Linked DNA regions of Homo sapiens. The protein of the gene in region 3 purifies or fractionates together with the protein of the main gene of each other region. This does not show direct contact. Each region holds a gene or a part of one and is shown on either strand. Other genes may lie near its edges. The genes, in order: KIF15, CAPN5, LRBA, RELT, SFSWAP, CAST and FRMD1.

Region 1 (2,482 bases), on a different chromosome or scaffold from region 3:
GTGGGGGGTGAAGTAGGCATTTGTTTTGGGAAACTTACAGGATTCAGATCATTTTATAAAGTCAGTGAAATGTACATGAAGTGTATAAATTCTAAACAACTGAAGAAATGAATTGAAAGAAATGACTGGTGTCCCACTGTCTGAGGACCAGTTTTTGAAATCAGAAATGATCAAGATAGGGGATACTGAATAAACCATGCAGATTATAATAATACTTAAATTACATTTGCCCCAAGTGGGCTGAATCTAAACAATTTTATTCTAAATTTTTTTTGTTTAGAAAATGTTTTGAGGAGTTTTCCAAAATGAAAGTCTTGGGTAAAACAAAACCAAAAAAAGCATATCTGGTATGTAGCACTTACTGTCTTCTTTTGCCATCAGCAGAGGAGGGCTAAAGATTAGTAATACTTTCAAATCAAAATTCTGGCCTTGCAGTACACATGTCTAACTTGAGCACTGTTTTATGATTATGTTTCTTTCAAATACTATAAAGTGATAACCTATTCCTACAGCCTAGAAGAAGTCCAAAGTGCCCTTTACAACAAAGAGATGGAATGCCTTAGAATGACTGATGAAGTCGAACGAACCCAAACTTTGGAGTCTAAAGCATTCCAGGAAAAAGAACAACTGAGATCAAAGCTGGAAGAAATGTATGAAGAAAGAGAGAGAACATCCCAGGTGTGCTAGTGTGTTGGTGTTTTCATGATACTTAGAACACTCAAATGAATAGAACTAATTAGCGTAAAACTCACTTTGTGATTGGGTGTCCTTAGTTCAGAGTTGCTTTATTGTATGAAGAGTTGTGAGGCCTTGAAAGCTGGGATTCTGGACTCTCTGACTTCCTGTGCTCCTGGAAGGCAAGAAATAATGTGACTTTAAAAGAAAATTAAGACCTACTTCTCATTTTTCCCTCCTTGGATTGATTACCTGCAGGAGATGGAAATGTTAAGGAAGCAGGTGGAGTGTCTTGCTGAGGAAAATGGAAAGTTGGTAGGTCACCAAAATTTGCATCAGAAGATTCAGTACGTAGTGCGACTAAAGAAGGAAAATGTCAGGCTTGCTGAGGTAAACCTAAAAATTATTCTGAATAAATTCTGTCTGGTTTAAAAATGATTATTTTATTGAAACCAAATTAAAACTTAATTATTGAATCAGTTAACTGCTTACTTCAGGGAGCTTCCTGAATTAAAAAAAAAAAAAAAGTTGGTCGTTGCTATTCTGAGCCTAATTCAATCAGTGGCATTTCATAGACAGCAGATTCTTGTTTAACGTTTAGTTTGCACATTGAAAATTCCAGTCTTAATTTGAAATATACACCTAATAAATGCAAAAAAAAACCACTTCCTGTAAGAATTAGAGCCTTATTTTTTTTCTTTTTGTTTTTTTAAAATTACTTAGGAGACAGAAAAGTTGCGTGCCGAAAATGTATTTTTAAAAGAAAAGAAAAGAAGTGAATCTTGAGGATTCCGGTCAGCTACCTAGGCATCACCTTGTTTGAAGATGTTTCTTCTCTTTTACAAGTAAGACCTACTCCTGGCCACTTAGGAGAGCTGAATTTATGGACCTTAATTATTAAATGTTTATAAGGTGGTGGTAACCACCTCAAGTTTCTGATGAACATTCTGCATCCATATACACCCTGTGACAGTCAGCAGTCTGCTATTAAGTGGCCTACTTCAAGGCTTTGAATCAACTTAAGGGAAAACCTTTTGTCTTTGTAAAAATAAAAGCCTGTAGCTAAGGTTTACAGTGGACATTAGCCAGATCATTTTCTTCTTAGATTATGCCATAATCTCCTTTGATTCTTATGGAAGTTCTAACAATATATGGTGGTTCCAACACCTGCAGTGAGTTTAATGACTGACTTAGTAGCAGGTACAAGAAGCAAACTTGTTAATATAGATTATTTTTGTATTCTTACTTTAGGTATTTTCTTGAGCATTTTCCATGACTGTAAATAAAGCCATTTTTTAAGATAATAATTAAAGTGACTTACATTGTTCATTCTGTTGTTCATTGAACACATACTTAATGAACACCTGCAATATGCCAGGCACTAATCATCAGTGAACAAAGCAAATCTTGCCCTCAAGGAACTTCTGTGTATTGGGCCTTCTTTCTTTTTTATTGAGACAAATATTCCATTTTATGGATATGCTACACTGTCCATCCAACAGCTGATGGATACTTGAATTGTTTCCAGTTTAGGACTATTATAAATAATGGAGCTATAAATGTTCATGTGTAAGTCATGGTGTGGACATATATTTCATATCTCTTGAGCACATGCCTAGGAGTAGAATTACTGGGTTATCTGAAAAGCATGTCTTTACTTTTTAAGACATTGCCTGTTTTCCAAATTTACCATTTAGGTATACCATTTTACATTCCTACCAACAGTGTATTCCAATTTCTCCACATTTTCACCAACACTTGTTATTGTCAGGTTTTTTACTGCAGCCATCCTAGGTGTGTAGTTATA
Region 2 (3,500 bases), on a different chromosome or scaffold from region 3:
TGCGCAAGGTGCGCCTGGGCCACGGCCTACTGGCCTTCTTCAAGTCAGAGAAGTTGGACATGATCCGCCTGCGCAACCCCTGGGGCGAGCGGGAGTGGAACGGGCCCTGGAGTGACACGTGAGGCCTGGGGATGGGGGTGCAGGCACAGGGCATGAGGGCTTGGACAAGGACGGGTGGGCTTCTTGGAGGAGTTGGCACTGGGGCTGGGCCTTGAAGGATCTGGGGGAGGATGACACTAGGAACGAAGAAGGGAGAATTACTTTGCAGTGGTTGTATGGGGTGATGGATTGAGCACAAGAAAGGCCTGGGGCTGGAGGCCATCAGGGGTGTAGAGACCAGCTTGGTGAGTGGGTGCGGGAGGGGAGCAGGGAGGGAGGCCACAGCCCTGAGCAAATGGGGGACTCCTCTGTGCTTGGCTTATGGCCCTGGTAAGGCCAAGATGGGAGTGGAGCCCAGGTGCTAAGTGAAGGAGCCCTCTTCACTGGGGGTCGCACCCCCCTTCCCCCCAGTCTGCAGCTTTACTTTCAGACCTCCCAGCCCCTGTCATGGTGGCAGCTCACGGTCCCTTGTGGGAGGAGACAGGCAGGGCTTCCTGGAGAGGGGCTGGGCATGGCCTCAGTGCCCCTGGCCACACCGTGCCGCTGGAGGCCTGGTGCAAGACTGCCCCTCGTGCCTCCTCGCCTTTGCCAGACAGATTCTGGTGGGGCTGCCTCTTAGACAGCTCCCTTTCTCCTCCCCGGCCCTGACACCCCAGCTCGGAGGAGTGGCAGAAAGTGAGCAAGAGTGAGCGGGAGAAGATGGGTGTGACCGTGCAGGACGACGGTGAGTTCTGGTGAGTGTGTATGTGCCCTGGGCGTCCGGGGCTGAGGGGGCTTCCCACGGGCCTGGCGGGGAGCACCAGGTGGGGAGTCAGGAGCCAGGCCTCTCCTGCATGCCCCATCATCAATTTGCTGTGTGGCCTTGGACAAGTCACACCATCTCAGAGCCTGTTTCCTCCTCTGTAAAATTAGTTGGGCAGTACCAGGCCCTTTCATCCCCACAGTCCCCTCTGCCGAACTGAGGGGTCCTGGAGCCGCTGTGGCACCCAGACCGAGCCTTTGGCATGCAGGTCAGGGAGCCGTCTAAGAGGTGGGCCCACCAGGATCTCCCCGGCAAGGGTAAGGAGGCATGAAGCACAGTCCAGCACCAGCAGTATGGTGTGGCCAGGGGCACTGGGGCTATGCCCAGCCCCTCTCCAGGAAGCCCTGCCCTCAGCCTGCCTCCAGGGGCCCTCTGGCAGCCTGATTTCTGAAATTAGGTAGCAGAGGCTCCTAGAGGAACTAGCTTCTAAGCTGAGACTTGAGGTACAGAGTAGGCCTTGGTGGGCAAGGAAGAGGACGTGGCTCAGAGGTGAGAGAACACAGCTGTGTTTGAGAAGGGAGCTAAGCAGGTACATGGGTGAGCTGGGAAGATGACAGCAGCTCAGCTTAAAGAGCCCAGTAATTGGCTGGGTACAGTGGCTCATGTCTATAATCCCAGCACTTTGGGAGGTCAAGGTAGAAGGATTGCTTGAGTCCAGGAGTTTGAGACCAGCCTGGGCAGCATAGTGGGACCCCATCTCTACAAAAATGAAAAATTAGCTGGGTGTGATGATGTACCCCTGTAGTCTCAGCTACTCTAGAGGCTGAGAGGGGAGGATTGCTTGAGCCCAGGAGGTTGAGTTTATAGTGAGCCATGATCGCACCACTGCACTCCATCCTGGGCTAAAGAGCAAGACCCTGTTTCAAAAACAAAAAGAAAAACCCCAGTAGTAATAAAAGTTCATCCTGCATTCATCCAGCCTGCATGAGTCCTGAATGTGGGCTAGGCTCAGTGTCACCCTTCAGCAGAACCTGATATGGAAACTCAGTCCCTTCCTGGAGGGGTATTGGCATCCTGTGTGTGCTGGATTCTGTCAGGGCCCCCAGGCAGACTGGGGGCAGATGGCAGTGGTCCTGGCACCCAATGATGAACCCTTCTGCAGGTGTCAGGTCAGCTGCTGCAGGAGGCCACCCAGGCCACTTTGCCAGTCTTGCTCAGGAGTCAGCAGATAAAAACACGGCAGAGCTCCTTGCCTTTAGAAAGAGTTTCTTCCAAAGGCCTTTCTCTTACATGTTCACGGTTAATTCACTGCCCCCTGCCCCCACCAGCTCCCTGGAGGCGTTCACAGTGTGCAGTGACCATAGCAACACCCTGGCCACCGCAGCAGGCTCACCATGGGGTTCCCACCATCCACTTACTCAGGCCTCTCAACAGCCATGGAAGATCCTGGATGCAGATGTGCTTTATAAACTGTACAGGGCAGCAGACAGTAGTTATTAACACCATTCACAATAGTAACAGCCAGCGTTTGCCAGTGCGTGCTCTGTCAGCCGAAAGTTGCACTGCCTGCTTTGATTGCATTACCTAATTCCTTCACTAGCTCTGAGATGGGCACCTGCTGTTAGATTCAGCCTCATTTTACAGGTGAGGAAACAGGTCAAAAGAGAGGTTAAGGGTCTGTGCAATGCCATGCCTGTGCCCTTGTGTGGGCTTAGCTCCCCTCTCAAAGCCAGCTGTGTTCTCTCACCTCTGGGCCATATGGACATATTAGGTTGTTGGGCTGGGGGGCCAAGAGCCTGGGGAGGTGTGGGGGAGGTACCCTGCTCAGCCCCTCCCCACATCCAGGATGACCTTCGAGGACGTGTGCCGGTACTTCACGGACATCATCAAGTGCCGCGTGATCAACACATCCCACCTGAGCATCCACAAGACGTGGGAGGAGGCCCGGCTGCATGGCGCCTGGACGCTGCATGAGGACCCGCGACAGAACCGCGGTGGCGGCTGCATCAACCACAAGGACACCTTCTTCCAGAACCCACAGGTGGGCGTTCTCAGGAACCCCCACCCTGCCCTGTAGCAGCTGCGGGGTGCCTTGCCACTGTCCTGCCAGGGACTCCTGCATGACCTTGGGTAATCCCTGTCCTTCCTTGGGCCTCAGCAAACCTGTCTGTACAGTGGGGGTTAGATGGGCACATCCGTCCCATCTGGGGGTCATGAAGCCCCCAGCCTCACAATCTAACCTGCAGATGGTAAAAATGAGGAAACCGCGGCTCTGAGGGACATTTGGGTGTCTTGTTCTGAGCTACAGGGACACTTAGAGGCTGAGCCAGGGACTCAGCCCCTTGTTTCCACAACAGCACAATTCTGTCCCTTCTGGGAACTTGGCTGGGCTGGGCTTCCCCACGGGGCCTCTCCCCACAGCCTCCTCAGTCTGACCCGTGGCGCTGCTTAGCCCTGGTGCTTGGTGTGCCTCTGTTGAGCACCACCTGTGTGCCAGGCTCTGTGCAGAGTGGCCACCCTGGCATTGAGTTTCCCCAGCCTTCATGCAGGGTAGCCATTGCAGGCATTGGTAGGCCCACCTCACAGCAGAGGGACCAAGGCGCAGAGAGGTGCTGTGACTGGTCCAGGCTCTGGAGTCTGAGCTTCCGGGAGCCAGCCA
Region 3 (3,500 bases):
ACCAAGCTTATTTCAGCTCCAAGGCCTTTGCATTTGTTCTTCTCTGCCTGAAACTCTTTTCTTTTTACATGGCTTGCTCTCTCTTTTATTCTTGCCTTTGTTCAAATAGAACAGAGAGGCCTACTGCAGTTACACTAGTAAATACACCTTCTCGCCTAGACTTTCAGAACAGTTCTTCACTCTGTACTTCCCCCTCCCTTCAAAGCTCTTATTACTATTTGACATTATCTTACATATTCGTGTGTTTATTTTCTGACACCTTCTTTAGAATATAAGCTCCATGAAGTCAGGAACAATGTGTTCATCACACAATGCCTGGCCTGCTACCGATGTTCAGTAAATTTTTGTTGAATGAATATGAGGAATTGGTCAATTAAAATACAGAACCCATGTCAAATAAAATATTGGCATTGTGAATGTAAAAGAAATTGATATTTTGTTAATGTGATTATGTCATTTTACTGTTTAGTGAGGAATACATGCATTTATTGTTGAAATATTATAAAAAGATTTCTAAGTTTTAGAATTAAGAACATAGTTACAATGTGGAAATAGTTACAATTAGGAAAAATACAAATATTCACAGGAAAATATTCATTCCCTGAACATTTTTATTTTTAGGTATATCACATGGCATGAATGTTCTGTATATGTCATGAGTAAAGGCGAGTTAATGTCGATAGAAGGAAATTTTTGCATTGAGAGTCATTTTTACTTTTGTTTGCTTTTCATCTGTGTGTATACTCTTGTGATTCAATAAGGCCTATTGATTTTTGTGGATAAAAAAATCAGCTTTTCTTCCTTGATTGTCCTATCATCCTCTTATACTATGGCTCAATAAAGATTTATTGAATGAATGTTCAGTTTACTCTATATAATAATGTAGATTACAGAAACAAACACTTTTGGGATTAATAAACTATAATTAGGCTAATACTTTCTGCATGTGTTATAGGTTTTTCTGGCATTTTTGTTGCAAGGGGTGATGGGGGTTACCATTGAAACACCAATGGAAATCATATGATGGTGGCTATAAGATAATCCTTAGATTTTAAAAATTCTAAATCTTGTGACATTAACAAGTACAGCACTCTCTTTAAAAAAAAATTTACTTTTTCAGTTTTTTCCCATTTGGGTAAAAGGCAAAGCATGATATAGGAATGTTCACGGTGCCTAATATATTGTAGTCACTCAGATATAAATGGAATGAATGGATGTATGGATGGATCAACTGAAACATTCAGACTATTTTCGACCAGTTCAAACTTTGGAAATTATGGTTAACCTTTGGGGGAAGGGCTGGATCTTTTTTCTCCCATTGCTAAAAGAATTTGTATTCATTGGCTTAGTGAGATAATGGTTTTGTAGCTTAATAGATATCTGTAGAGCTACTGTAATGGTGAGCATAATTAATTGATATTTTTAATCTCTCCTGCGGACAAGTCCTGGGGAAATTGGTATTCATAGCGGTTGAAACAAGTGTTATCCAGTGCATAAAGCACTTCCCAATGGTACATACTTAAATTCTGGTACAAGTTATGGTGGCCAGTAGAATAGTGTATCCTTTTCCTATACATGTTTAATAATAGGCTAAATAATTATGTTCTTCTTGTGGTTTCATGCTGTGTTACTTGTTAACATTAAAATTGGCTGTAGTTTTTAATGAATATTTAGATTTCTGTGATTGACTTACATTTATCATTCTACTAAAATAAAATATAGGAAAATTAAGTTTTATTGTATTATATAAACTATGTATTTGAAAATTATTTAGTTTTATATTTTGTATTCTGTCTTCATTTCTCATGCATATTTTAACTGATTGTACATTTTTCACCTAGGTCACTTTTGAAATACACAAAGAAAACCTTGCCAATATATTTAGGGAACAGCAAGGAAAAGTTGATGAAGAAATAGGGCTGTGTTCTTCAACTTCAGTTCAAGCAGCCTCTGGCATTAGAAGGGATATTAATGTTTCAGTAGGATCCCAGCAACCAGATACGAAGGATTCTCCTGTCTGTCCTCATTTCACCACAAATGGTAATGAAAATTCAAGTATAGAGAAGACAAGTTCACTAGAATCTGCATCTAATATTGAACTGCAAACTACTAATACATCTTATGAAGAAATGAAAGCTGAGCAAGAAAATCAGGAGTTACCAGATGAAGGCACTTTGGAAGAAACACTGACAAATGAGACAAGGAATGCAGATGATTTAGAAGTATCTTCTGACATAATAGAAGCTGTGGCTATTTCCTCTAATTCTTTTATAACAACTGGCAAAGATTCAATGACTGTCAGTGAAGTAACTGCTTCTATAAGTTCTCCTTCAGAAGAGGATGCCTCAGAGATGCCAGAATTCTTGGATAAATCTATAGTAGAGGAAGAGGAAGATGATGATTATGTGGAACTGAAAGTAGAAGGCAGTCCTACTGAGGAAGCTAATCTACCCACAGAGCTCCAAGATAACAGTTTGTCTCCAGCTGCATCTGAAGCCGGTGAAAAACTGGACATGTTTGGTAATGATGACAAATTAATATTTCAAGAAGGAAAACCTGTTACTGAAAAGCAAACTGATACTGAAACTCAAGATTCTAAAGATTCTGGAATTCAGACTATGACAGCATCAGGGTCTTCAGCTATGTCACCAGAAACTACTGTTTCCCAAATAGCTGTAGAATCAGACCTTGGTCAGATGCTGGAGGAAGGGAAGAAAGCAACTAACCTCACTAGAGAAACCAAATTAATTAATGATTGTCATGGTAGTGTCTCTGAGGCTTCTTCTGAGCAAAAGATTGCGAAGTTGGATGTTTCCAATGTTGCTACAGATACTGAGAGGCTGGAGTTGAAGGCCAGTCCCAACGTGGAAGCACCTCAACCTCATCGACATGTGCTTGAGGTGATTTTATATATTGTCTTATTCAAGTACTTTTGCACTGAGTTAAAAAAGAGCAAGTGTATATACTTAAATTTTATTTTATTTTGAATTTGGTTCACATGCTATTCACAACTAAATAAATGCAATGAATGTGAAGATTGTATTTCAGATCATTAGCACAGTGTTTGGCAGTTAATGTGAGTTCATTAAATGACAGTTTTTATTACTATTTTTACCATAGTATCACCAGAAGTTACCACTTTGAAGGATTGGTATAATTTTAGTTTATAAAACAAATATTGGAAACACTTGCATTTTACCTTTTATTTGACTAACCCAATCCTAGTACATTAGTTTTCCAACAAACTCTAGGGCTACCTACCTGCCAGTGTATAATTTTAGTTACTAAGCATGTGATTTAAAATTGTATTATGAAGTCTATAAGAGAGAGGAGGCTTTGTGAGATCTAGAGGCACAGCCTTCTCCTCTGTCCATATCTCAGAGTGACCCATGAGACAGTGCTTGGTAGCATGTTGTCATTTTCCACTTTATTCAATTCTTATCCTCTGTCCCACCCTCCTTTTTTTTGTTTTTGTTGGTTGGTTCTTCATTATGTTATCT
Region 4 (2,288 bases), on a different chromosome or scaffold from region 3:
GGGGCACTCAGTTAAATTGTTACATAGGGCACAGTAGAGAGGCCATGGAATAGCAGTTTGCTGTAGATTTGGGGAGTTCTGGGTAGGGTGGCAGCCCACAGCTCCTTGAGGCTGAGGAGGAGACAGTGCAGACCCAGAAGACGCTGACGCACCGCCCCCTCGCCCGCCCAATTCAATGACTGGAGTTCACGTGGCCCTGAAGCCTCTATGCACCCGGGCTGTTGGGTGCAGGAAGCACTGGTGTTGAATCATGAAGGTGATATGGGCTTCTCTGAGCCTGGATCCCACATTTGCAGGGCTCTGGGAGGCTTGTCACCTAAATGCACATGCTCAGGGCCCTTAAGAAGGCCAGGGTTGCCCTCTGCTGGCAGATCATGGTTTAGCTCAGGAGTGCGGCTTCCCCCTCTTCCCCAGGATCAGGGCCCTTCTCTTCCCCAGGAATCAACCCTGCCTACCGGACTGAGGATGCCAATGAGGACACCATTGGGGTCCTGGTGCGCTTGATCACAGAGAAGAAAGGTGAGGAGAAGGTCTGACCCCATCCCAGTGCCCAGGAGAGGAGGGTTTCCTCCAGGAGCCTGTGAGGCAGCCGCGGTGGGCAGAGTCTTGCCCTGCTCTGCCTTCCCTGCCAGGGTGCCTCAAGCAGCCTGGTGCTCTCTGACCCAGGAGTGCACACCTCTGCCTCCCATTCTTGCCTGATGAAGTGGGAGGAAAAGGCGCACAGCCCAGGCTGGGAGTGGTGGTATGGAGGGTAGGTGGGGGGTTCTCTGCTGGGGCAGGGGGTGGGAGGTGTGTCCCATATGGCCACAGTGAGGGTCTGACTGCAGCTACCCACAGAGAATGCTGCGGCCCTGGAGGAGCTGCTGAAAGAGTACCACAGCAAACAGCTGGTGCAGACGAGCCACAGGCCTGTGTCCAAGTGAGTGGGCTGGTGGGAGATAACGGGGCCAAAACCTACATTAACCAGCCTGCCTCCTGGGGATCTCCCACTTGGGTCTCCCTCAAGTCACCCTGTTCCCTGCTGGGGTCTCCTGCCCCTGGCCTGGCCTATGGCCACTTCTGCCTGTGCCCCCTGCAGGCTGCCGCCAGCGCCCCCGAACGTGCCACACATCTGCCCGCACCGCCACCATCTCCACACCGTGCAGGGCCTGGCCTCGCTCTCTGGCCCCTGCTGCTCCCGCTGTAGCCAGAAGAAGTGGCCCGAGGTGCTGCTGTCCCCTGAGGCTGTAGCCGCCACTACTCCTGTTCCCAGCCTTCTGCCTAACCCGACCAGGGTTCCCAAGGCCGGGGCCAAGGCAGGGCGTCAGGGCGAGATCACCATCTTGTCTGTGGGCAGGTGAGATGGGCACAGATGCAGCAGGGGCAGGTAAAGACGTGACAGCCTGGGGGCCGGGAGGGGGAGGCAGGGCCCCAGCTTGGGCCCTGAGCACCCTGCTCAATGGGAGCCCTGCCCTTATTGGGCCTCTCTGGGCAGTGGAGGCGGCCAGAGAGATCAGGACTTTCCGGTTATGTTGTGTCTCACATGGAGCCCTTGCATCCCTAGGGCAGCATCTTGGCCCCCATGGCACCCGGGCCTCTCAGGCTAAGGCTCTGGTCCATGAACTTGCTGTGTGACCCCGGGCACGTGCTGCCTTCTCTGTGCCCCGGGATCCCCGCTAACGGGGATGATTGCCCCACTCTCCTCACAGGTTCCGCGTGGCTCGAATTCCTGAGCAGCGGACAAGTTCAATGGTGTCTGAGGTGAAGACCATCACGGAGGCTGGGCCCTCGTGGGGTGATCTCCCTGACTCCCCACAGCCTGGCCTCCCCCCTGAGCAGCAGGCCCTGCTAGGAAGTGGCGGAAGCCGTACAAAGTGGCTGAAGCCCCCAGCAGAGAACAAGGCCGAGGTGAGAGTCAAGGAGAAAGGCATCTGTTGGCACCTGGGCCAACCCTGACCGAAGACGGGGCAGGGGTGGAAGTGCAGCGGGCCCTAGGCAGGGGCCACTTTCCTGGAGCCAGAAGCCAGCCCCTGACTCAGCTCTGACCCCTCACCCCTGCCCACCAGGAGAACCGCTATGTGGTCCGGCTAAGTGAGAGCAACCTGGTCATCTGAGGGGCGGTCTAGTCTAAGGACACTGCGGCCCTGCCCTGGGAGGTTCCGAAGGCTTCCTGGAGGAGGTGGAGCTGCAGCTGGGACTGTGAGGACCGAGAAGCAATGGCCCAGCAGACGAGACAGCAAAGACCAAGGCCTGGAGGTGGGAGCGTCTGCCCCAGTGAGGAGGCAGGTGGCCGGCGGGCACTGTGTACA
Region 5 (3,500 bases), on a different chromosome or scaffold from region 3:
AAAATAGGCTTCGTGTTAGATGATGTCATCCAGCCGTCAGCTACTGTAGGTGCCCTGAGCACATTTAAGGCAGGTGAGGCTGTGCCATGGTGTTCGGTGGGTTATAGGTGGATTCTGTGCATTTTCCACTTCACGGTGTTGTCAGTGTATGGTGGGGTTGTCGGGAAGTAGCCTCGCTATAAGCCCAGGAGAATCCCGGCATGTCGTGGCAGCCTGAGGACAGCAGGAGCCCCTTGGCACACTGTGCCCTCCCCCGTTCATGACTAGTAATGGCACAGTTATTGTAAAGCTGATGTGGCTTTTGCCAGCCCAGACTTCAGTTTGTAGACTACAGCCCAGCTTGTAGATTTTATTTCTGTTGTCACCCTGTACTAGTCCAGAAATTCTTAAAATTTAGTGTTCACGAGAATTGCTGTGTACAACATACAAGGGGCTGTATACAAAATCCCTGTGTCCTATAGTTGGTAGTCAGTTTAAAGGGCTTCAGTCCAGTTAAAGGGTTCTGTGAGCTGTATGGTGCCACCATTGTGTGCGGCACGTGTCAAGCAGCTTCATGGTCACTGCAGGATATTTTAGCACTGAGGCATTTTAGAAGCAGTCCAGGCCGTGCCACCAGCTGGCATGAACTCACTCATTAAACACTTACTGAGGGCCTGCTCATGCCAGGAGCTGTGTGAGCGGCTAAGGTTTTGTGGTCACTATTTGGAGATATGGAGTCCTTGGGAACATAGCTGCACACCAGTCCTAGTGGCGCAGGAGTTGCCATAGGGCGTTGTTTACAGGGTCCCCACGCGAGCCCAGAGCAAAGGCCTCCTGAGTCTGCCAAGGAGGCAGAGGCTTCCCGAAAGAGGTGGCACTGGAGATAAGCTGAATAGGGGCCTCATGGCAGGCAGAGACCCTGTGAGGCCGTGCAAAGGACAGAGACCTGGGGAACAGAAGCCAGGGCAAGGGGTGGGCTGGGCAAGCGGCAGAAGCCCTTCGGGAGGCTGGCCCTGGGCTGCTCCAGATGACTTGTGCCCGTCCTGCCTCCCACCAGGGCCACAGTGTCTGGGGAAGGATGGATCTGACGTCCTCCCTTAGATCTTCACATCCCTGACACCCTATGAAGTGAGAATCTGGGAGAAGCAACCCAGGAACGGTGTAGCGGAATTCATGAACCACTGTGGTGTTGGTTCCCGGGCTGCCTCCGAGCATGGCAGTGCCATAGGACACGTCCCACATTCTCTGTCGGCAGACAGAGAAGTGTTTTCATCTCATCAAGCAACACATACTTTATTTCTCTTGGAGTCCTTTTGAGAGACAGGATGATTTTCAAATTTGATTAAAACCTTGGAGAGAATCACAGGTGTGTGTGGGGAAGAGGTGACAGCAGCAGTGGCTAGCAGCAGACCGCCTCACAGAGGCTGCGCGTGTCTCGGCTTCACAGCTCTCCTCTGTGAGAATCTCCTGGGTCTGGGTCAAGGGTGTGCCCAGAGCATTGTCAGCCTGAGTGGTTTTTAGCGTGGAGCCTCTGAAGCAAGTTGTGGACCTAGGCTAGGATGTCCCTGGAGTGTTTTCAGATTTGGGCATTTGTTTCATTTTTACACCTACAGGCAGCCTTTTTTTCTTTTTGTGAGCTCAGCTCAGGGGCTCACTCCATCACCCAAGCTGGAGCACAATGGTGCCATCAACACCTCACTGCAGCCCCAAACTCCTGGGCTCAAGCCATCCTCCTGCCACAGCCTCCCAAGTAGCTGGGACTGTAGATGTGTACCATGCCCAGCTAGTTTATTTTATTTTATTTTTTGGAGATGGGGTCTGATGGTATTGCCCAGGCCTGAAGCATCCTCCCACCTCAGCCTACCAAAGTGCTGGGATTATAGGTGTGACCCATGGCACCCAGCCTAAATTTTTCAAATTAGCTGACATTTTTGACATTTGTAGTGGATGAGTCTCTGAGCAGTCTGCCATTTTGCCGGCACTGCTATTTTTTTTAACACTTCGTTTTTATTTAACAAGATGGAAGGCTCAGGAAGGTCATATAGACTAACAGTCTGCGTGTTCTTTAAAGGAATGGCGCTCAGCTTTGAAAACAGTTTCTTCATCTCTGTTGTGTTCCAGTGTGATTGCACTTTACACAGTTACATAAAGAATGCAGGTATCAGGTTGGAGCTGCATAATATGTACTACTAGTTGAAATAATTATAAACCGTTTTGTTTTGTTTGTTTTTGTGAATTCAGATCCCGTCCTTTGTGGCCCCAGTTTAAAACATGTTTGGACACTTTTTAGGGGTGAGACTGACTGTCCAGAGCAGGACATGGGGTTTCCGTCCTTCCTGCTGAGGTGGGAGGCTGGAGACCTGACAGTAGCCAGTCGGTAGTGGGGTCAGTTCCGCCTGGCCCTCCCCAGAGCTAAGCACACACTGGGCTGCACTCTCTCCCCTGGAGTGCTGGCTTCGCCCTGGCTGAGAGGAAGCATCCATACATAGTAGCCTGATGGCTCCAGCAGGGAGTGGGTGGAAGCAGCAGCTCCCCCCTTCCAGGGATGACGTTGTCTCTTACAGAAGCACATGCTTATATTCGGATTCCTGATTTTGATAGGAAGCCTATGTTGGACCATCAGGTCAGTTCGTTGGTCCAGCACATACTCTGCTCAATGCAGAGGCTGCAGAGACAGTGAAGACAGGACCTGCCGCTGCAGGAGCCTCAGAGACGGTGCCTGCCCTGCTGTCAGCCTCCCATTGACATCCAAGGGTCTCATCCCCTGCTCCCGGCCTTTTCTCAGAAATGTTGCTCAGATATATCTGTGTTGACGATAATGTGGAGCACATCGAACCCACTTATCTTATTTTGAAAATTTGGAGTATTACTGTTTCTGTGTCATGGTGGTTGGTGTGTAACATGGAGCTAGAGAACAACGGTTTAGGAGTTCATCATGTATAATTAATTTAAATAAGTCATTAGCAGCTGGGGAATATGCCTACAGCACATAGGAATTATGCTGCCTCGCCAATCTAAGATGGAAAGGTCAAGATAGTCTAAGTTGTACTTCTGAAATTTTTCTCTGCATAGCATACATTACTGGAAACCATAGTTAAGCTTTTACTGTTTTTCAATGTTATTGTTTTAAGGTGAATTGATTGAAAGTGAAGATAAAAGTTCTTAATTCGAAAAATATTTTTGCCATCTCCTAATAAAGAGGAAATTAAATCTCTGTGTAGTCAGAACTACTTGCTTATCTACAACAGGACTGGAAATTAAATTTCGTAATTAATCATTGAATCTTCTGTGATTCGTGGTTCTGAACATTTAACCCCAAAAAGGATAAATGTACAGGATTTTTAATTGTTAAGACAGCGTGCCTCTACCCTACAGATACCTGCTTGTGTGCACAGCATAGGTGGCAAGACGGCATACATCACTGTCTGTGATGGAAAGGTCCAGACACAGCCTCAGTGCCCCTGGGAACTTTTATTTACTGAATAAATTCCTGCACAGCCTGTGTTGCTGGGGCCGGGGGC
Region 6 (3,500 bases), on a different chromosome or scaffold from region 3:
AAAAGTTGAAAGAATAATACAATGAATGCCCATATTCCCCCCGCTCAGATTTCAACAACTATTAACATTGTTGCCATATTTTGCCCTATTTGCATACACACACACAGGCATACATACAGACACAGAAAGAGAGAGAGAGAGAGAGACAGAGAGAGAGAACAAGAGGGCACTACATGTCTTTATATACCTGTAATGGAAAGTAAATCACAGACATCCTGAAATTTTAACCCTAAACTTTTCACCATGCATCTCCTTAAATTTGAGAACATTTTCCCAAATGGTATTGCTATATACCCAATACTATTATCACCCTAAGACAATTAACAGGTATTTCCAGTAAATAACAACTTTATCAATTAACCATTGCCCTGATCATTTATTGAAAATTATTCAATATTCAGCAGTCTGTTAATGATGTAAAGTCAATTGTATCTTTTCACTGAGAGAGATTCATGAAATAATTGAGTACTTTTCACATAACTGAGAGGATGGAATGAAATACTTGGGAATGACATATGTCAAATTCGATCCAGCTCAGGAATCTGCAGGCGTCTTTCTAAAGAGCGAAGAGAGAAAACTCTGCTGACCACTACTACGTGTAACTGCTGGGTTGAGGAGAGTGAGATGAGCAGGGAACAGGGAAGGATTGACAGCTGGGGAAAGAGAACTGAACCACAAAACTAATTACAGAAAAGAAATTAACACCTCCTAAGCATCTGCTCTGTGCTAGGCCCAGTGCCAGGCATCTCCTATGTGGTCTTCTTTGCTACCCATAGCAGCTCTAGGGAGTACCCACTGTCGCCTTGGTTCATGAATAAAGCAACTGAAGATCTGAACAGCGATGTTCTCCATGGTGATACCACTCAGGATTACATGGGCCAAAGACTAGGCTACTTTGGATCTAGTTAAAAGCTAACTAGGATCTTAGGATTTTCATCAAGAAAGTCTTTAGAGCATGCGGGTGATCTGAAATGAGAACAAAACAAAAGGCACGAAAAATAACAAAACATGAAAACTTCCTATTCTAAAACTTGTTTTATAAATGAACTGAACACACAATACTGTCCTGTATTGGCAGCTAGAGAGGAGGCCAAAGACAGGAAGAGCAGGACAGGATGCCATAGTAAAGAATTTCACTGGAAGGACAAGGCCATAGAAGACAGGAGACTAGATGGGGGCTAAGATGAAGGTGGTATGTGCTCCAGAAGCTCAGAGCCAGAGAAAAAAATCAGATCAAGGGCTTTGCTATCTTAACTCAAGAAGGAATAATTTTCCAAACTGTTTTCACCCCCTTTATCACATAGTTGGCAACTACAACTGTCGTTTGTCCTCATTCTAGGTGACAGCCTCTATACGTTTAAAATCTGCCATAGCAAACCCATAAATCTGAAAAAAATCAATAAGAGCTAAGTGCAATAAGGCTCAGAGCCTGAGCTCTCACCCAGCTAAGGGCTTCTGCCAGGGCAAGGTTCAACTCTGCCACATTTGGGCACCTGCCCTGTTGTTACCCAGATACACACAGATACATAGACAGCCAAGGGAACATGTCACACAAAACAAGATAAAAATCAAAGAAACTAGGCCGGGCACAGTGGCTCACGCCTGTAATCCCAACACTTTGGGAGGCCGAGGTGGGCAGATCAGGAGATCAGGAGTTCGAGACCAGCCTGGCCAATATGGTAAAACCCTGTCTCTACTAAAAATACAAAAATTAGCTGGGCATGGTGGTGCACACCTGTAGTCCCAGCTACTCCGGAGGCTGAGGCAGGAGAATTACTTGAACCCAGGAGGTGGAGGTTGCAGCGAGCTGAGATCGTGCCATTGCACTCCAGCCTGAGTAACGAGCAAAACTCCATCACAAAAAAAAGAAAAAAAAATCAAAGAAACTTCTTCACATATAAAAGAAGCAAGAAGACAGAAAAGCAGCCCTTGCCAGCATTAAGTCCAGCTGTGAAAAGAGTATGAAATGCTAGTGTGCTTCTGAAATGCCTTTGCTTTATTATTATTATTTTTTAAAGTATGAGGCTTCTTTTAGGAGGAAAGGAAAACATTCTAAAGTAAAATTGTGCTGATGGTTGTGACCACCCTGTGACTATACTAAAACATATTGTATCATATGTCTTGGTGGGTGATTTATTTGAAAACTTAAACATTTTCCTTCTTCAATGTGGCGACAATTTCATCGAGATAGTATTTGCATGTCCAGGGACAGCTGTGGAAAAATCATGGAGCAATAAAAGGTTATCTTGATACCCTCTGGACTCTCCGAGCTCATGGAACTCAGCTCTCTACCATCACACACACTGAGAAAGGCTTCTACCAGGGGCTCCTGAGGATCACAAAGACTTCAGGTTAGCAGTGGGTCCCATCCTTCAGTGCCTGTCACAAGCACCTGGGAAGCTTTTAGAAACATTTGTGTCAGGGCACAGGGATTTAGATTTAGTTTGAATAGAATGGGGCCTTGCCATGGATAAATTTTTCTAAAGTTCCCCAGATGATTCCAATATACAGCCAGGATTGAGAACCACTGGTTTTGGGGGAAGATTTATGGGCACCATGATAGGAAGCGGAAGTTTCCGCTCCTCAAACCATCCCACTGAGTCGGCACCCATGGGGAGGTTCCCAGGGTCAGGCAGACTGGGGTGGCTCTGGGCTCCTCCTGGGTAAACTCTGATTGGTCAGTGAAGCAGCACAGTGCCCTATGTCTACACCAGTGTTTCCTGTCAAATTCTGAGCTTTGCCCTATTAATGGAGTATCATATTTTCATATTTGCACATTAATCTCTATTTTCTCAGTAAATCAAACAAATTAGCACTTTATTGTACACTCTCTTGCTTACTGATTACTTTATAAACTTACATCTTGCCTTCCTAATCACAGGGTAAGTTATATCCTTTTTTTCCTAGATGTGTGGTAGGACCATAACAAAGAATTCTTGATTGAATGACCATGTTCCCACAAACCTATAAACATTCCCTGAGAAGTAATTTTGCTCTTTTCAGATCAGTAAACTAGACAAAAGAGAAAGAGGCCAAGAAGGTAGCTTGAAAAATTAAGAGACAATGTGCAAATTGGTATTTCCCACAAAAATGCCTTAAAATATATTTGTATATGTATTCTACTTGCTAAAGCAAAATTATTCAGCAAACAAGCAGATGGACCAAAGCTTCTGTAAAGCTGGTTTTGCTTCAGAACAGTCTCCCTGGGTGCAGATCCTAGAACTGTCTGCCTTCAGGTGGATTCCTTGTTCCACTTCTGCTGTGTTCAAATTGTAGTGGAACTTTGCTGGCTGCAATTCTCTTGATGGATGGCCTCAAGTTGGGTTTAGCCAACAGCAGGCGCTGCCAGGAGACTAGAGGTGGTGGGTGGGTGGTATTCCCTTTGCCCCACCCCCTCCTCCAGTAGCACCTCCTGCAGGATGGGTTGGCTGTGGTTCCAGCTTCTGCAAGGTGACCCTTGTCCTCCCTGTGTCCCTCTAGACTAGGGATGGTAGCAGCTT
Region 7 (4,002 bases), on a different chromosome or scaffold from region 3:
AAGGGATCCCCACATCTTCCATAGTGAACAGCTCTACGTTTGCTGTGGAGAGAAAAGAGACCGCCACTGCTGTCTTGGGCACACATGTGTGGCCTCGAGGGTCTGGGAAGGGTCTGGATCTGAGCGGAGGGAGGGAGGGAGGGAGCCAGTGTCAGTCCAGGGTCCGGGGGAGGTGAGGCCTAAGCCTCCTAAATCTTCTCAACCCACCGGGCCGGGCCTTAGGGCGGCTGGAGTGCGAATTTCCTAAACCCACCGGGCCAGGCCTTAAGGCGGCTGGAGTGCGAATTTCCTAAGATGAACAACGGCCCGTCCGGAGGTCCAGACCCCTTACTAGAGGAAGGTCCCAGAGCATCCCAGACTCCATGGCAGGAAACTGATGGAGCTCACGGCTGAGGACAGAATTCCACAGCCCAGGCCCGTGGGAACTGCCTCTCCTGACCTGCAGCGCCCAAAGGTCTGGGTGGTCCCAGGGCCAGGCAGGATCCTGGGGTCCCTTCCCCACCTAACACTGTGCCAAAGAGCTCGAAGGCGTTGCTCATCTCTGCTGAGCGGCCTCAGGGGTTCCAGGCCCTGCGGGAGATGTCCCCACCCCTCGTGCTGATGCACCCGGCTGCTGTCCACGCAAGCCAGGACCCCCTTCCTGGCCTTCCAGCTGCTGCAGGCAGGAAGGGATTTGCTGGCCCTGGACAAGGAAGGAAGTGTCCTCAGTTTCCAGCCCCTAAAGGGAGCCAGGGTCCCTCCTGGCAGAACCTGTCCAGGAACGGCAGCTGTGCTGCTTCCTGAGGTCGATAACAGATGCCACAGGAGGTGTGTGGGGCAGGGTGCCCACCCAGGCTGCCTTCCTCCCGCCCTCCTCGTCCTGCCCTGCTGCTGCTCCATCTTCCCCAGCAGCCCTGGCTCTGGCATCTGTGCCCATGGGGTTTGCATAGCCCTCTCCACATTATAGAAGAAGGAGCAGGCACCCTGAGGAGATAGGGGTTGTCAGGTGGAGGAGTTGGGTCCTGTCTCCCCCAGCCTGGTTCTCACGGGGCCCACACCGAGGCTGGCTGCTGAGCTACCCTGCATGGGAGTGCTGCATGGCGGGTGCCCAGCCTGAGGTTGTTTATTTGCATTCCTGGCGCCCTCCACACACCCAGCTATTTGCAGCTCTGACCCTTGTCCTGGCTTGGCCATGCTGGATTCCCAGCCCAGGCTTCCCTCTCAATTCCCTTCCCAGTGAGAAGCTCGGCAAGGGCGGGTCCCGGAAAGCACAGCTGTGATCTGGGAGGTGCTGAGCACCCACCTGCGACCCATGGCGGGGGAGGGCCGAGTAACGACAGCATGGCGGTGCCCCCGAGAGGGAGGGGCATAGACCCCGCCCGGACAAACCCTGACACGTTCCCTCCTTCAGGGGCGCGATGTATGGAACCCAGTCCTGAGAGGCCTGCATGCAGTCAGCAGGAGCCGACCCTGGGAATGGACGCGATGGCCTCGGAACACAGGGATGTCCTCGTGCTGCTGCCCAGCCGGGAGCAACTGCGGCTGGCCGTGGGGGTGAGCAGGGCCCTGGGTGGCCGTGGGGGTAAACAGAGCTGTGGGGGTGAGCAGGGCTCCGGGTGGCCGTGGGGGTGAGCAGGGCCCTGGGTGGCCGTGGGGGTGAGCAGGGCCCTGGATGGCCTTGGGAGTAAACAGAGCCATGGGGGTGAGGAGGGCCCTGGGTGGCCATAGGGGTGAGCAGGGCTGTGGGGGTGAGCAGAGCCATGGGGGTGAGCAGGGCCCTGGGTGGCCGTGGGGGTGAGCAAGGCTGTGGGGGTGAGCAGGGCCGTGAGGGTGAGCAGAGCCGTGGGGGTGAGCAGGGCTGTGAGGGTGAGCAGAGCCGTGGGGGTGAGCAGGGCCGTGGGGGTGAGCAGGGGTATGGGGTGAGCAGAGCCTCAGGACACAGCCTGTGTATGGAAAGTCCCTGGACCGCCTCACTCTGCTTAGGCCAGGTGTCTGTGAGGTGTCAAGGGCCAGCCCTTTCACTGGGCCTGTGAAGGAAACATCCCTGATAGACGTTGCTGTGAGAAATAAGTTTATGGTTCAGCACATCCTTCCCGGGAGGGAGCGCTGAGGGAAGAGCGCCAGGAAGCCGGTTTCCAAGGAGCAGCTCCTGTCTTGTGTTCAGACGTCACCATCTCTATGCTTCTCTATTTCCTTTTCTTTTCCCTTTCCCCCATTTTGTCTACCTGTTTTAGTTGAGTTCATGGCGACAGGAGTTGAGATGGTACTTTCATTTTAATGATTAATGTGGATAATGAAAATGTGGCAATTAAAATGAGAGTGGTTTGTTGAAGAACGATGACTTTCTGCATAGCTAATGTATCATTGCTACCTGGAATGGAGTATGACTTGCTAGTAATATCCTGGTTCAAGTCCCCTGGGAATCTGGGAGTCTCTTGTCTGCTTCGGGATAGAGTTCTGTGTTTACGTAAACGCCCACATCTATGTTTGTGGCAAAATCTTCCCCAAGACTCTGTGTCCCCACCCAGCAACGAGAAGCTGGAGTTGAGCTAATGGGGGATGTCCTGTAGTTTCCTGGGGTCCCCAGCAGTGCCTCGGGCTGGGGGAGGGGTCATAAGAGGACCTGTTGTGGGGAAGATGCTGGGGCTTTGGCCCCCTACCCCATAAGAGCTGGAACTTTTAGGTTTCTTGCACGGAACTTCACGGTAAGATTTTAACTGAGGGATCATGCAGCTAGAACATAGTGAACCGCCTGTTCTGAACAGGTGAATCGTGCTCATCTGCTTTTGACGGAGCTCCCTGAAGTGCCTCTGCAACTCCTGTGGCCCCTGCTGGGCCTGGCAAGTTGGCAACCACAGAGCCACTTCCTATCGGGGTGTGCGCACATCTGTGTCTGCAGTTGGACAGGAACCCCTCACTGGGTTGTGCAGTCATCTATGTCTGCAGTTAGACAGGAACCCCCCCACAGGGTGTGTGCACATCTGTGTCTGCAGTTGGACAGGAACCCCTCACTGGGTTGTGCAGTCATCTATGTCTGCAGTTAGACAGGAACCCCCCCACAGGGTGTGTGCACATCTGTGTCTGCAGTTGGACAGGAACCCCTCATTGGGGTTTGCAGTCGTCTATGTCTGCAGTTAGACAAGAACCCCCCCCCATCGGAGTGTGTGCACATCTGTGTCTGCAGTTGGACAGAAACCCCCTATTGAGGTGTGCACACATCTGTGTCTGCAGTAGGAGAGGAACCCTCTATCAGATGTGCATGCATCTGTGTCTGCAGTAGGAGAGGAACCCTCTGTTGGTGTGTGCACACATCTCTGTCTGCAGTAGGACAGCAACCCTCTGTTGGGGTGTGCATGCATCTGAGTCTGCAGTAGGAGAGGAACCCTCTGTTGGGGTGTGCATGCATCTGTGTCTGCAGTTGGACAGGAACCCTCTGTTGGGGTGTGCACGCATCCGTATCTACAGTTGGACAGGAACCCTCTATTGGGGTGTATACTCGTGTGTATCTGTAGTTAGACAGGGAACGCTCTATTGGAGTGTGTGCACACCTGTGTCTGCAGTTAGACAGGAACCCTGTATTCAACCAAATATGTGTCAAGCCCAGTTATTCGAAAGGGATGGGCTGGGAAGACCCTCACTGAAGATCTGTGTTACCGTCATTGTGGGGCCTGCCCCTCACCAAGTTAAGCAGACAATAATCATATTAGTCTGTTCTCACGCTGCTAATAAAGACATACCCAAGACTTGGTAATTTATAAAGGAAAGAGGTTTAATTGACTCACAGTTCCACATGGCTGGGGAGGCCTCAGGAAACTTACAGTCATGGCAGAAGGCACCTCTTCACAGGGTGGCAGGAGAGAGAATGAGTGCCCAGCGAAGGGGGAAGTGCCTTATAAAACCATCAGATCTCATGAGAACTCTCTCACTATCATGAGAACTGGATGGGGGAACCACCCCCGTGATTCAGTCACCTCCCACCGGCTCACTCTCACAGCACAGGAAGATTATGAGAACTACAATTCA

The links.
Region 1: the proteins of LRBA (region 3) and KIF15 fractionate together in Homo sapiens (co-fractionation; one large-scale study listed by BioGRID). This does not show direct contact.
Region 2: the proteins of LRBA (region 3) and CAPN5 purify together in Homo sapiens (co-immunoprecipitation; one large-scale study listed by IntAct). This does not show direct contact.
Region 4: the proteins of LRBA (region 3) and RELT purify together in Homo sapiens (co-immunoprecipitation; one large-scale study listed by IntAct). This does not show direct contact.
Region 5: the proteins of LRBA (region 3) and SFSWAP fractionate together in Homo sapiens (co-fractionation; one large-scale study listed by BioGRID). This does not show direct contact.
Region 6: the proteins of LRBA (region 3) and CAST fractionate together in Homo sapiens (co-fractionation; one large-scale study listed by BioGRID). This does not show direct contact.
Region 7: the proteins of LRBA (region 3) and FRMD1 purify together in Homo sapiens (co-immunoprecipitation; one large-scale study listed by IntAct). This does not show direct contact.

Annotation. Positions count from the first base shown.
Region 1 is NC_000003.12:44,851,275-44,853,756, forward strand, and holds the end of KIF15 (kinesin-like protein KIF15), read left to right. Parts: intron 1-512; coding exon 513-678; intron 679-933; coding exon 934-1,065; intron 1,066-1,398; coding exon 1,399-1,461; 3' UTR 1,462-1,982; downstream 1,983-2,482. UniProt on the Homo sapiens protein: Plus-end directed kinesin-like motor enzyme involved in mitotic spindle assembly.
Region 2 is NC_000011.10:77,115,471-77,118,970, forward strand, and holds part of CAPN5 (calpain-5), read left to right. Parts: coding exon 1-118; intron 119-755; coding exon 756-833; intron 834-2,686; coding exon 2,687-2,882; intron 2,883-3,500.
Region 3 is NC_000004.12:150,851,285-150,854,784, reverse strand, and holds part of LRBA (lipopolysaccharide-responsive and beige-like anchor protein), read left to right. Parts: intron 1-1,841; coding exon 1,842-2,900; intron 2,901-3,500. UniProt on the Homo sapiens protein: Involved in coupling signal transduction and vesicle trafficking to enable polarized secretion and/or membrane deposition of immune effector molecules. Involved in phagophore growth during mitophagy by regulating ATG9A trafficking to mitochondria.
Region 4 is NC_000011.10:73,393,399-73,395,686, forward strand, and holds part of RELT (tumor necrosis factor receptor superfamily member 19L isoform 1 precursor), read left to right. Parts: exon of another isoform or gene 1-207; coding exon of another isoform or gene 208-256; intron 257-414; coding exon of another isoform or gene 415-438; coding exon 439-519; intron 520-827; coding exon of another isoform or gene 828-837; coding exon 838-919; intron 920-1,078; coding exon 1,079-1,336; intron 1,337-1,688; coding exon 1,689-1,887; intron 1,888-2,045; coding exon 2,046-2,093; 3' UTR 2,094-2,288. UniProt on the Homo sapiens protein: May play a role in apoptosis. Induces activation of MAPK14/p38 and MAPK8/JNK MAPK cascades, when overexpressed. Involved in dental enamel formation.
Region 5 is NC_000012.12:131,749,090-131,752,589, forward strand, and holds part of SFSWAP (splicing factor, suppressor of white-apricot homolog), read left to right. Parts: intron 1-3,500.
Region 6 is NC_000005.10:96,668,876-96,672,375, reverse strand, and holds part of CAST (calpastatin), read right to left. Parts: intron 1-3,500.
Region 7 is NC_000006.12:168,076,413-168,080,414, reverse strand, and holds the start of FRMD1 (FERM domain-containing protein 1), read left to right. Parts: upstream 1-1,202; 5' UTR 1,203-1,320; coding exon 1,321-1,533; intron 1,534-4,002.